3 separate regions of the Homo sapiens genome follow, and all the other regions are reported to be linked to region 3. The links are microRNA targets in miRTarBase. Many come from high-throughput screens and were not tested one by one. Region 3 holds a microRNA gene; each other region holds the end of a gene's coding sequence.
The links. The annotated mature microRNA hsa-miR-3160-3p reads AGAGCUGAGACUAGAAAGCCCA and lies in region 3 at 1,520-1,541, opposite strand. An mRNA with a match to its seed (bases 2 to 7 or 8) in the 3' UTR can be bound and repressed. Matches are read on the target gene's strand: a 7mer-m8 pairs with bases 2 to 8, a 7mer-A1 pairs with bases 2 to 7 and ends in A, and an 8mer does both.

Region 1 (4,201 bases), not on the chromosome of region 3:
AAACAGTTCATTACAGTTAGATCCTTTAGAGGGATTTTTGATGACCCAACCTTGAAGGCAAAGGTTCCATTCTTGAGACACTCCCCAGTCTCACTGAATTGCTAAACTCCAACGCACAGAAGAGCAGTGAAAGAGCATAAAGATACATCATAATGAATTATGGAAACCATGCAGAGACTCAAAACAGTCCATGGTGGGCTAATTGTAAAGACATTCCTGTATTTGTCTGCCTATTTGCCGTCTGTACTTACTTTGAATATAACCCATTCAGCTTAGCTTAACCATAATTTTTGCTTATGAAGAATATTGGCTGGGGGTGGGAGTGAGGGGAAACAGGTGGTGGGAAGGAGCTAAAATTTCACATCCCTTAGCCCAAAGTCAAACCAAGAGCTACTGAGCACCCTGACAAGGAAATTATAGTTAAGTTTTGAAGAAAACCAGATACAATTAATACTATTACCTTTAGAAAGAAATATTACCAATAGTTTCTTCTAGGAAGTGAGACCCCACTGTACAATTTAGCTTTTAGAAATTTTACCATTAATCCATTTTTCTTTCCAACATGTAATCTGTGTTCTAAAGCAGAGGGAACTAAAGGAATGGAAACCAAGAGGGTGTCTGGGGGAAGGAAAGGCAAGAGAGAGAGGTCAGGAGCAGAAACGATGGAAAGATCCTGTGCCAATCAACCAGTGACCCTAATTCCTGTTTCCATTCCAGGAATTGCAGCAATTCACAAACTCTGAGGCAGTTTAACTGTTGCAGAGAAAAGATGCTCATAAAACCAGTATTGTAATTCTCTTAAGCACCAATAAGCATCAACTTCTTTTGCATCTTATTTGATACCATTATAATTACAAAATAATTGAAATATTTAATTATTGCCTTTTAATATTCTTTTTAACCTAATTAACGTGTTAAACTTGCTGGTAGGTCCAGCCTGCATACTTCAACATTAACATTCTCAAAAACTTCTTAGAGGGAAAAGCAGAAAAATGTCATATTCAACCATGAGCTTTGCCAGTGGCTCTAATAACTTCTGACATTGAAAAATAATTGGTAGTTTTGGCAGATATAATAGTAGGTAGAGATTGCTTGAAGTCTGCCTGGTGGACACACAGGGATTTCAGAATGAGTACCAAGCATAACAAGCTATCAATTTCTTACCTAGAATAATAAGAACAAATTAACCCCAGGCAGAGAAAATGTGATACCTATGTGGGTATCAGACTCCCCAAATGCAACCACGTTGTAGCTTAAAGGGTCTAATTGTATCGAATCTTTGCTCCTGTGCTTTACATGCAGCGCGGCAATAGCACTTCCACTATTTCTCCAGTTCCTGAAACAGTTATTACGGTCACAGCTGAAAGCAACTTGAAATCTACCAAATAAGATCAGGCAAATTTTAGGACGGTATAGAGGATGTAAGTTTGAATTGCAAGAGGCACCTGAAAAACGTCTGGTGCCATTCCCACTTTTCCAAGGTTGCACTGAGCAACACACTCCCATGAGGTATGCTGACCCTCAGAGAAATTCAGAAGCACTATTTGTGAGGCTGCCATTAACTCAAAATCTCCTGTTTCCCCAGCTCTGTAGCTTAACCTCCATGGGTGTGAGACAGGGACAAGGGCAGGGAAAGGCCTTCCAACTGGGTGTGTGGAAACCTGGGGGAGGCAGGTGGTGGCTAGATTTTAGGGTCTTAACAATGCCATTGGGTCCAGTCCCTGCAGTGAGTCCACGTTCTAGAAAAACTGTTGCCATGTTTACTCCTAGAGAGACATACAAAAAAATTTGGGAGATCCTCTCTAGTTACTCCCAATACATTTTCTCAAAAATGCACAACTGCTTTAAATAAAAACCTAAGTTTTAAATGGCAGCAGTCCAAAATTCCCTAGTAAGAACAAATCTCCACTGATTCTAATGGGGGGAGGGGAAGTGAAACTATGCCATAATGATTAAAACTGCAATAATTTTTTGACATGATCTCAATTTTTACTCTTATTTATTGTAAAGTGAAAAAACAGCTGCAGACACAAATGACTTCCACCATACAATGTTCTGAATTCTGTTACTCATGATTTCAATGCTGCTTGGTTTCTTTCTTGAAAATCAATAGTGGATAAACGCTCTTCTTGAAATTACCACCAAATGAGAAAAATAAGCAGAATAGCAAATACATGATTAAACATAGGAGACAAAACAGCAATTTGAATAGGAAACAGAAAACATTTCTGAGCAGACTGTTTAGAAGTGCCTCCAAGGGCTGGTCTGCACTACCTATCAATGCGGGGTGGGGGTGGGGAGGTTGCCGTCATGGTATCATCTAAGTACCAACATTTTTTTTCTTTTTTTTTTGAGGCAGTCTCCAGTCTTGCCCAGGCTGAAGTGCAGTGGTGCCACCTCGGCTGACTGCAGCTTCTGCCTCCTGGGTTGAAGTGATGCTCCTGCCTCAGCCTCCTGAGTAACTGAGATTACAGGCATGCGCCACCATGCCAGGCTAACTTTTGTATTTGTAGTAGAGACGGAGTCTCGCCATATTGCCCAGGCTGGTCTCGAACTCCTGGCCTCAAGTGACCCGTCTGCCTCGGCCTCCCAAAGTGCTGGGATTACAGGTGTGCACCACCACGCCTGGCTAATTTTTGTATTTTTAGTAGAGACACGGTTTCACCATGTTGGTTAGGCTGAACTCCTGACCTTGTGATCTGCCTGCCTTTGCTTCCCAAAGTGTTGAGAGTACAGGCATGAGCCACCAAGCCCAGCCCCATCTGAGACATCTTAACAGACCACTGGGTGGGTAGGGGTTGGGGGCAGAACCTGGATTCCAAATATCAAGGGACTGTGCAGAGGAAAGAAATTCCCAGGCTCTGTTCAACTTAATTGCACAAGCTTACAGCACCAGAGCTCAAGGGTCTCACTTCTGAGCTGTCCCTCTCTAGAAGTCTCCAGACAGACCCCTGGATACTAAATGAAACATCTGGAAATGTCAACATTAAAAATACTGAAAGTCTTATTACTAAAAGAGGAAAATATCTTTTTTTCCTCTGTGTACAAATAGCTCATCTAGGCTACCACAGTTAAGTCTGAAGCAGGGCTGTGGCGTGGGTGAACTACAGTATTTGACATCTTTATACGGATTAAGGAGTTGGGTCAGGAAACCTGATGACCCAGGAGAGAATGAAAAATAAGTCACAATTATTCATTATAATAGTCACCAGATCATTTGACACATTAAATTTTAGTCTTGGCTTCAACTTAAGAATATAGAGTTTTAGGAAAATGTTTTCCATATGCATAAAAAACAAGAATGGAGGGATGCAGACCAGCAGCTATTTTCTGAGAACAAAACATCAGCCCATGTGTTGCTTTACACTTTTAATCTCTGTTGGTACATCAGATGCCACGGACCAAGCAATTTAAGTTCTGGAGCCCGAAGGCAGTTCCAAACCAAAGCAAGGATTAAAACCTAACTCAACCCAGCAAGGTCCTTATCCAAGCTCTCTAGAAGAGACCATTCTGTTTCTAGAAATGACGGGACACTGTGTTCAAATTGCTTCTGTCAAGATACTTAAAAATAAGTAAGTGTTCCTCATTGGTTACAAAGCTGGGGCTAATGCTCATCTCAAAACGACTCCAACTCTCTGAGTCCAGCCATTTCAAAGGACATCCTTTAGTCTCTGGAAATGGAGAGTGCGATTCAGAAATGAGCTCCAGGGGCCCTCTTTACAATCACCAAGGACTTCTCTCCACTCGTGAGGGTCCGGCTTCCTCCAGTGCATCCTTCTCTTCAGGCTGGAGGAAGTTTTCTATGGCAGAGTTCATCATGCCCTTCCATCTTCCCGTCACTGATTATTTAGAAGACAGGAGAATCACAGAAAGGGCAGGGGCTTTGCAGTAACCTCTTAATCCAGTCGGGATCTGCAAAAGGAGGACAAGTGGTATCAACTGTTAGCTTCGGAAAAGACAGTCAAAAGGGATGAATACCGGACTGTAGCGTTGAGAGACGGGCATTCTGGTCCCACCTCTGCAATAAACCAGCTACATATCCCTAGACAAAGCACTTCACTTCTTTGGGCTTCGGTTTCTATCATTCCAAATGAGGCTGGACTAAACTTGTGGTTCACAAAGTTAAATGTAATGAAACAGGAAAATAAGGGTAATGAAGAATGTTTCATAAAGCTAAATTTATTCAATTTAAAGAAAGGAG
Region 2 (4,231 bases), not on the chromosome of region 3:
AGGCTCAACCTGAAGCCGGATCTCTCCGACACGGTGAGAAGCCAGGCTACCTGCTGTGGGAGGCAGAGATGGGGTGGCTGGAAAGGCCTCATGTGAACACTGGGGGGCTCTGTGGGGCCATGTGGCTGTTCAGTGTGTTGGTGCTTATCTGTTCTTCCTGGGGACAGACACCCTGTGCAGCTGGCCACAGAGGCCTCTGCGTCAGCCTGGTCCCAGGTGCTGTGGGTCGGAGGCCTCTGTGTCAGCCTGGTCCCGGGTGCTGTGGGTCCCTTCTCCTTGGCGATATCTGACACCTCCACGCTGACAGAGGGCTCTTCCCTGTGCCCCTCTGCAGGTCCGCTACACACAGCTCGTGAGGAAGAAGCAGAAGGCCCAGCACCGCTGCATGCGGCGGGTTGGCCGCACTGGCTCCCGGCGCTCCGGCTATGCCTTCTCCCATCAGGAGGGCTTCGGGGAGCTCATCATGTCTGGCAAGAACATGCGGCTGAGCTCTCTCGCGCTCTCCAGCTTCACCACCCGCTCCAGCTCCAGCTGGATTGAGAGCCTGCGCAGGAAGAAGAGTGACAGTGCCAGTAGCCCCAGTGGCGGTGCCGACAAGCCCCTCAAGGGCTGAAGGCCGAGGATGGATGCCCTGTGCCAGTGACCAGAGCACCCAGGGCTGGCCAGTCACTGAGGGAACAGCGTCTCGGAACTGCTGGTCCTCATTCCTTGCTTCCCGTCCCCCCGGTAGACTCTGTCCTGCTGGTCCCACCACACATGGCTGGGACATCTGTTCCCAGCTGTAGGCCCTTCCACCAGCTGGGGAGCTAGAGGGAGCAGGCCCAAGGGCAGAGCAGAGGCTGAGGCACGGGGAGCCAGCCCCACTCGGGGACCAGAAGTGGAACCAAAAACAAGAAAAAACTGTGAGAGATTGTGTCTGCCCCTGCCCTGCCTGGGACCCACAGGGAGACTATAATCTCCTTATTTTTTTACTCCTACTCCCCAGAGGGGCCCTAGTGCCTCTGTTCCTGAATTACATAAGAATGTACCATGCCGGGAAGCCAGAGACCTGCAGGGGCCTCGGCCCCTCACATCGTGTATGTCTCTCCTTGATTTGTGTTGTGTCCAGTTTGGTTTTGTCTTTTTTTATTTGGCAAGTGGAGGAGGCTTTTATGTGACTTTTATGTTGTGGTTGGTGTCTTAACTCTCCTGGGAAAAGGAGGCTGGCACACACTGGGATGCCGCAGCCTGGCCGGCTGTGGGGTGGTTTGGGAGGATCCATGTCGGCTCTGCCTGCAGTGACCAGTGCTCTGTGGGGCAGAGGAGCTGACCAGGGAGGGAGGTACCCATGAGCAGAGGGTAGTGGGAGAGTGTAAAGGAGGGTTTGGTCCTGTCTGCTTCCTCACCTTGAGAGTAAAGTGCTGCCCTCTGCCCCCAACACACACACATATCAATTCCTGGATTCCTTAGTCCTGCTGGCCTTGGGCTGGAGCCTAGGAAAGTGGCCCCCAAATCCTTAGTGAGCTAAAGCTGGGTCTGAAATTTGGTCAGTGGGGAGGGGTAGTTTTCTTTTCTTTTTTCTTTTTCTTTTTTTCTTTTTTTTTTTGAGATGGAGTCTCACTCTTGTCACCTAGGCAAGAGTGCAATGGCACAATCTCAGCTCACTGCAACCTCCACCTCCTGGGTTCAAGCGATTCTCCTGCCTCAGCCTCCTGAGTAGCTGGGATTACAGGCACACACCACCACGCTTGGTTAATTTTTGTATTTTTAGTAGAGATGTTTCACCATGTTGGCCAGGCTAGTCTTGAATTCCTGACCTCCTGACCTGCCCACCTCAACCTCCCAAAGTGCTGAGATTACAGGCGTGAGCCACCACACCCAGCTCAGGGAGGCGTAGTTTTCTTTAATTTTAAATTTAAACCCAAGTTTATTGGCAGACTCCCTTTTGACCTCCCTTTGCCTCCCCATCTGGTGCTTTCTTGCATCTACACCCCAGGGCCCTGTGGTGGGGCTGCAGGGGGAAGCTGTGCACCTGAGATGAGGCTGGAACGGGAATTGGCCTCTCTGCTCCCTTCTTCAGTAAGCAAGGAGCCCCGCCCCTCAGGCCCAGCCTCTGGCAAGAGGTGGTGGAATCCTTGTGCCGGGTAGTAGAGGAGGATAAGGGCAAAACCAGGCCCAGGCCAGTGCCTGGCTTGGTCTGGATGGGACACTGTCAGAGTTTGGCCACAGCCTGTCCTTTACTTCATCCACACCTATGAAGCTATTCCCTAAATAAGGCATTTCCCAAGTTAGTCGCTACCTAATCAGCCTTGAGAAGAATCCTTTCCTCTTCTTTGATAGTGGGTCGGGGGATTCTTCAGGAATGGTTTGGAGCTGGGAGTGGGTAGGGGGATTTTAAATGTTCCATATGGGAGCCCCAAAGGAACTGGATGGGCTGCAGTGAGGTGGGGGCGGGTGGGCAGGGAATGGGAGAGGGGAAGTCTTGGCAGGGAAATCCCTTTTGGCCACACAGTTTACAAACCCAGTATCATGTCTGTCTGTGTGTCTCTCAAGGTGAGAGTCTGATTTTTATACCAAAGAGGAAATGATTTTTTTTCATATTTTGTTTGTCTATATTATATAAATATATATATACAGTTATATATATATATATTATTTTTTGGTTCTCTCTCGTTTTTTAGGGAGGGAAGAAAGTACCAAGTTGCATTGAGCTGTAATTAAGGAACATTATAATTTATGACACATTTCTATACTTGCAAAAATTATATCATTTTATGGATATAAGAGAAAAATGCCTTTTTATAAAATTTCAATTTCTGAGAAGTGTGTAATTTGTCTCTTTTCTGATGTTTAACCAAGACTGGTGGTGAAAGTAAAGACAGAAACTGTCTCTTAAATGTAATTGAGTGGGTAGATCTGGGATATCTTGGACAAATTGGAATCTGACTGGTGTGGGATAGCACCTCATCCATTTGCAGACCTCCCGGGATCTGAGTTTCAGCTGAAGATGAAGACGGGGCAGTGGGTGGTACTGAGCGGCATATCGTATGGACTTTGGCTGGGTGCCTAGGACCTTGAGCTGTTTACCTTTCTCCAAACGCAGGCCAACCTGTCATCCCTAACACACGCCAGATGGATGTGTGTGTAGGGAAAGTACCTGGTAAATATTGTAAGGTTTTGTTTTTTAACTCTGCGCTTTTCCGCATGCCTCACATCTTCCTGGCTTCTCAAGTGAGTATCAAGGAAGCTAAAGTCTTATATTAAAGGGAGCTTTCCTCCAGGGAAGGGAGGGCGGATGAGGATGGGGTCCTAGGAGTCAGGGCCAGGGTTAGTGCTGGCCTGAGGAGAAAGAAGTATAGCTTCCTCCGCCGATGGCCAATATCAGCATGATCCAGCCCCACCCGCAGGCTAATTTCCCCCTGACCCAGCCAGTCTTCAGTTATGGAACAATCCTTCTCAAAAACGTAGACTGGGTGTGGTGGCTCAATGCCTGTAATCCCAGCATTTTGCGAGGCTGAGGCAGGAGGATCACTTGAGCCCAGCCCAGGAGTTCAAGACCAGCCTGGGCAACATGGGGAGACCCCGCCTGTATTAAAAAAAAAAAAAAAAAGGGTGGGGGAGCGGAGGGTGTATGGGGGGAAGATGTGAAGATAAGATCTGTTTCCCTCTTCAGGAGAAACGGCCCCTGGCGGGAATCCCGCCACAGACCGCCAGGAACACCACCTGACACCCACCTCCACCCAGGGAGAGGCTGTCCAGTCCACACAAGCCTTTCTTTGGGGTCTGTCTGGAACCCTGAGCTTTGGGCAGCAAGTGGCATCTGGCTTCAGTGCCCCCACCCCCGAAACACAGAAAGAAGCCTTAATCCCTTGAGGCTGGTGAGGCCCCAAGTCCACCCCTCCCACAAGACAGGTCTTCAGCACTGCGCTGGCCTCCCGTTGGGGGTCTGTTCAGCCACTGGGAATGTCTTCCTTGGCTCCTCTCGCTGACCCTGGCTCTCCTGCACCCAGGATCCTATTATGTGTGTCTGAGGGGCAGGGCCAATGTCATTTTAACTTTCATTGCCTCTTGGGGACGCGTTTTCTCCGTCGCGATATAGACACACGCCTCCACGGAGGCTCCGGGCACTCGGGCTCCCCGTTTTCTCCCCTCTGCCGCAGGCATCCCTGGTCTTCCTTCCCTGCGCTGACTGAGCACCTGGGCTCCTGTGGGAGTGGCTTCCAGCCCCTAGGTCCCCATCGTCCTAGTGCCT
Region 3 (4,231 bases):
AGCTACTAGGGATGCTGAGGTGGGTGGATTGCTTGAGCCCAGTAGTTCAAGGCTGCAGTGAGCTGTGATTGCACCACTACATTCCAGCCTGGGTGATAGAATGAGACCTTGTCTCTTTGGGGAAGAAAAAAAAAAAAGTGAAGTACTGAAACATGCAATAAGCGTGGATAAACTTTGAAAATGTTATGCTGAGTGAAAGAAGCCAGACACAGAAGGCCACCTACCATATGATTTCATTACATGAAATGTCCAGGAGAAGCAATTAGTGATTGCCTAGGGCTAGGGCAGGAGTGGGACAGAGTAAAAGGGAGTGACTGTTAATGGGTACGGTATTTAGGGGAGATGAAAATGCCTGAAATTAGACAGTAATGATGGTGGTTGTAAAATTTATTTGCTGATGGTTACATAACTGTGCGGATATGCTAATAACCTTGAATTGTATACTTTAAAATAGGTGAATTGTAAGTTATATCTCAGTAAAGCTATAATTTTAAACAGACAGACACACATATATATTTGGGCATTTTTCTCAATGTCAGAATCATAAATGAGAACTCAGAGAAACTTGGGACACTTCTAAGCATGGAAGAAGTCTTCTTATTTGTCATCAGGGACTTTTTCCAGGTACCAGGCTATAGGATACATTGACTGTGATTTCAGATTAGATTAAATGATGATTAGAGTGAGTGTGACTGAGTACTTAGTTATACCCCTTTCTTAGGACAGATTTTAAGACTGCATTTGAATGAAGCTTTCTGGAAAGAAGATTAAGTGTTCTTCCTAGGATGCCATGCAGATATACTCAGAAAGGGAAGATGGTTCCCTTGCTCTGAGAATTATTTTTTGTAAACAGAAGCCAGTGTATTTATTTACAGAGAGCTCAGATAATCCATAAGAGAAAAGTTAAAGTAACCAAAGCTAGGTAGGGTAGCATGTGCCTGTTGTCCTAGTTACTGGGAAGTCTGAGGCAGGAGGATCACTTAAGGGCCAGGAGTTCAAGGCAAGCCGGGCAACATAGTGAGGCCCCATCTAAAAAACAAACAACAACAACAACAACAACAAAAAACCTTAAAATAACAAAGGTTTTTAAAATGTACATAAGACACTAGTAGACCATCTAAAAGATACACAGTGAGCTGGTAAACAAATGAAAAGATGTTCACCAATACTCTTAATTATTAAGGAAATGAAATGGATCCAAAAAATAGGATTACCATTTTTTACTTCACAAATTGATAGACATTTATTTGAATAGTGTTTTCTTAATAACAGCATTATTGAGATATGATTCACCTACCATACAGGCCACCTATTTAAAGTATACATTTCAATGGCTTTTAGTATATAGAGTTGTGCAGTCATCACCTCTATCTAGATATTTCATATCATCTTTATCACCTCCTAAAAAACCCCATACACATCAGCAGTCACTTCCCCTTTCCCTCTCTCACATCCCTCCAGCCCAAAGCAACTGTCAATCTGTTTGAAAAGTTGATAAGTTTTTCAGTTGGACCTGCCCTGGGCTTTCTAGTCTCAGCTCTCCTCCAGCTCAGCTGGTCAGGAGAGCTGAGACTAGAAAGCCCAGGGCAGGTTCATATAACAGCCAAGCAGAAAGATAGTAATTGTGTCTCCAGGATGATGAGTGTTTACATCCCCAACCCCATTCTTATTTCATCTTCCCAGCAGCACACAGTCAGAGATGGCCATTCTGAATTAGAAAGTCTCAAGTTAAACAGATTTTTCAGGACTGAAATGTAATTTAATCATTTCCTTCTTTGCAACTTGCCCTTTTTTACCTTCCCCGAATTAGCTTTTCTGATAGATTTGCTAATGATTCCCATTGTTCAGTATCTTCACTGAACTGTTGAATCATACTTTTCATTTCCCTTCTCCTAGAACAAATCTTAGAGAGAAGCTGTGAAGCTGTTTTGAAAAAAGATTCCTAATTCTTTCCAAGCAACAGAAGAGAAGAGTTTCTGAGAGAAGCAAAGGTAGAGAGATGCACAGAGGCTATTAGGCTTGGCAGAGCTCACCTATCATGTGACTGTGATGATTATTATGATTTTATCCCTAGACACATTCTGGGAGCTCTGGCCTACAAGTTGAAGACCTGACTCTGGAATGAGACTTGGCAGCTTAGTTTTTGCCATTGTTGTTGGCTGATAGTTAGCCAGGATCACTGGATTTAAGCTTCTTTTCCTCCTTGTTTTGTCTGTCATCAGAATAATCTTTATTTCTTCTTTTGCTCTAAGCCTCAATGAAAGGAATTTCTGTGGTTATATGATAGATATGAACTACCATGACTAGTATTGTCCTTATGAACAGCTGCTGTTCCCACTGTCTCCTAGAATGTGAATGAAAGTCGTGGCCCCTCCCTCTTTTTTAGGTTTATTAAAAGTTGAGTGGAAAATACAGACAGTTCCCATATACTCCCTCCCCTTACACCCACAGGCTTCCCCACTGTCCACACCAGTGTGGTACATTTGCTGCAGCTGATGAACCAACGTAGACACATCATTATCACTCAAAGTATGCGTTTACATTAGGGTTCATGCTTGGTGTTGTAAATTTCACTGGTTTTGGCAAATGTATGTGCCATGTATCCAACATTGTAGTAACATAGAAAATAACTTTACTGCTTAAAAAATCTCCTTGTGGCTGTACATGGTGGCTCATGCCTATAATCCCAACACTTTGGGAGGCCAAGGCAGGTGGATCTCTTGAGTTCAGGAGTTGGAGACAAGGCTGGGCAACATGGTGAAACCCCATCTCTACAAAAAATACAAAAAAAATCAGCTGGTCATGGTGGCACACACCTGTAGCCCCAGCTACTCGGGAGGCTGAGGTGGGAGGATCATCTGAGCCCAGAAAATTGAGGCTTCCGTGAGCCGTGATTGCACCACTGCACTCCAGCCTGGGCAATGGAGTGAGACCCTCTCTCAAGAAAAGAAAAAAAAAAAAAATCTTGTGCTCACCTGTTCGTCTCTGCCTCCCTGCAAACCAACCCCTACCAACTACCCATCATTTTTCTGTCTCTATAACTTTTCCTTTTCCAGAATCTCATACAGTTGGAATCCTATAGTATGTAGCCTTTGACTTCTTTCATTTAGTAACATGCACTTAAGGTTCCTCCATGTCTTTTTGTGGATTGATAGCTCATTTCTTTTAGCATGAATAATATTCCATTGTATGGATGTGCCACAGTTTATCCATTCATCTCTTAAATGAAGAACATCTTGGTTGCTTCCAAGTTTTGACAATTATGAATAAATAAATAAAGCTGCTATAAATATCCATGTGTAGGTGTTTGTGTGGACATTAGTTGTTTTTTTTTTTTTTTTTGAGACAGTCTCGCTCTGTTGCCCAGGCTGGAGTGCAGTGGCGTGATCTCGACTCACTGCAAGCTCCACCTACTGTGTTCAAGCGATTCTCCTGCTTCAGCCTCCTGAATAGCTGGGATTACAGATATGCGCCACCACGCCCCGCTAATTTTTGTATTTTTAGTAGAGATGGGATTTCACTATGTTGGTCAGGCTGGTCTTAAACTCCTGACCTCATGATCCACCTGCCTTGGCCTCCCAAAGTGCTGGGATTACAGGCGTGAGCCACTGCGCCCGGCCTATATTAAGTCTTGAAGTTGGGTTGTGTCAATCCTCCAATTTTGTGTTTTCCTTCCATATTGTGTTGGCTATTCTGGGTCTTTTGCCCTTTCATATAAACTTTAGAATCAGATTGTTAATATTCACAAAATAATTCAGGATTTTGATTGGGATTGTGTTGAATCTGTAGATCCAGCTGAGAAGAATTGACATTGTAACAGTACTGAGCCTTCCTATTCATGAACATGGAATATCTCGCTAATTTAGTTTTATCCTTTGTGATGTCTTTCATCAGTTTTGTAGCTTTCCTCCTATAGACCTTGTACATATTTTGTTAGATTTATACCTAAGTTTATTTTTTTGATGCTAATGTAAGTGGTGGTGTATTTTTAATTTCAAGTTCCAGTCATTCATTTGTTCATTGCTGCAATATAGGAAAGCAGTTGACCTTGTATCTTGAAACCTTGCTATAATTATTTAATAGTTACTGGAGTTTTTTTGTTGATTCTTTGGGATTAGACAGTGATGTCATCTGGCAACAAACAGATTTCTTCCAATCTGTATACCTTTTATTTACTTTGTTTTGCGGTGGGGGGTGGTTTCTGATTGCATTAGCTAGGACTTCCAATATG

Region 1: miRTarBase lists GTF3C4 as a target of hsa-miR-3160-3p. Seed matches in the 3' UTR shown: 7mer-A1 at 2,916-2,922.
Region 2: miRTarBase lists ATP8B2 as a target of hsa-miR-3160-3p. Seed matches in the 3' UTR shown: 8mer at 1,636-1,643 and 7mer-A1 at 1,859-1,865.

The regions. Positions count from the first base shown.
Region 1 is chr9:132,688,592-132,692,792 of GRCh38, reverse strand. GTF3C4 (general transcription factor IIIC subunit 4) reads right to left here. Exons shown (of 5, transcript NM_012204.4): 5 at 1-3,912. The coding sequence ends at 3,848. Among named protein-coding and RNA genes, the nearest start is that of GTF3C4, 20 kb to the right of the region's middle.
Region 2 is chr1:154,348,506-154,352,736 of GRCh38, forward strand. It overlaps ATP8B2 (ATPase phospholipid transporting 8B2), which reads left to right. Exons shown (of 28, transcript NM_001370597.1): 27 at 1-33; 28 at 335-2,799. The coding sequence ends at 613. Among named protein-coding and RNA genes, the nearest start is that of ATP8B2, 25 kb to the left of the region's middle. RefSeq lists enhancers at 1-809, 810-1,793.
Region 3 is chr11:46,449,168-46,453,398 of GRCh38, reverse strand. MIR3160-2 (microRNA 3160-2) reads right to left here and starts at 1,592; the gene lies at 1,512-1,592. The region is part of intron 11 of AMBRA1 (autophagy and beclin 1 regulator 1); the gene reads left to right. MIR3160-1 (microRNA 3160-1) reads left to right here and starts at 1,510; the gene lies at 1,510-1,594.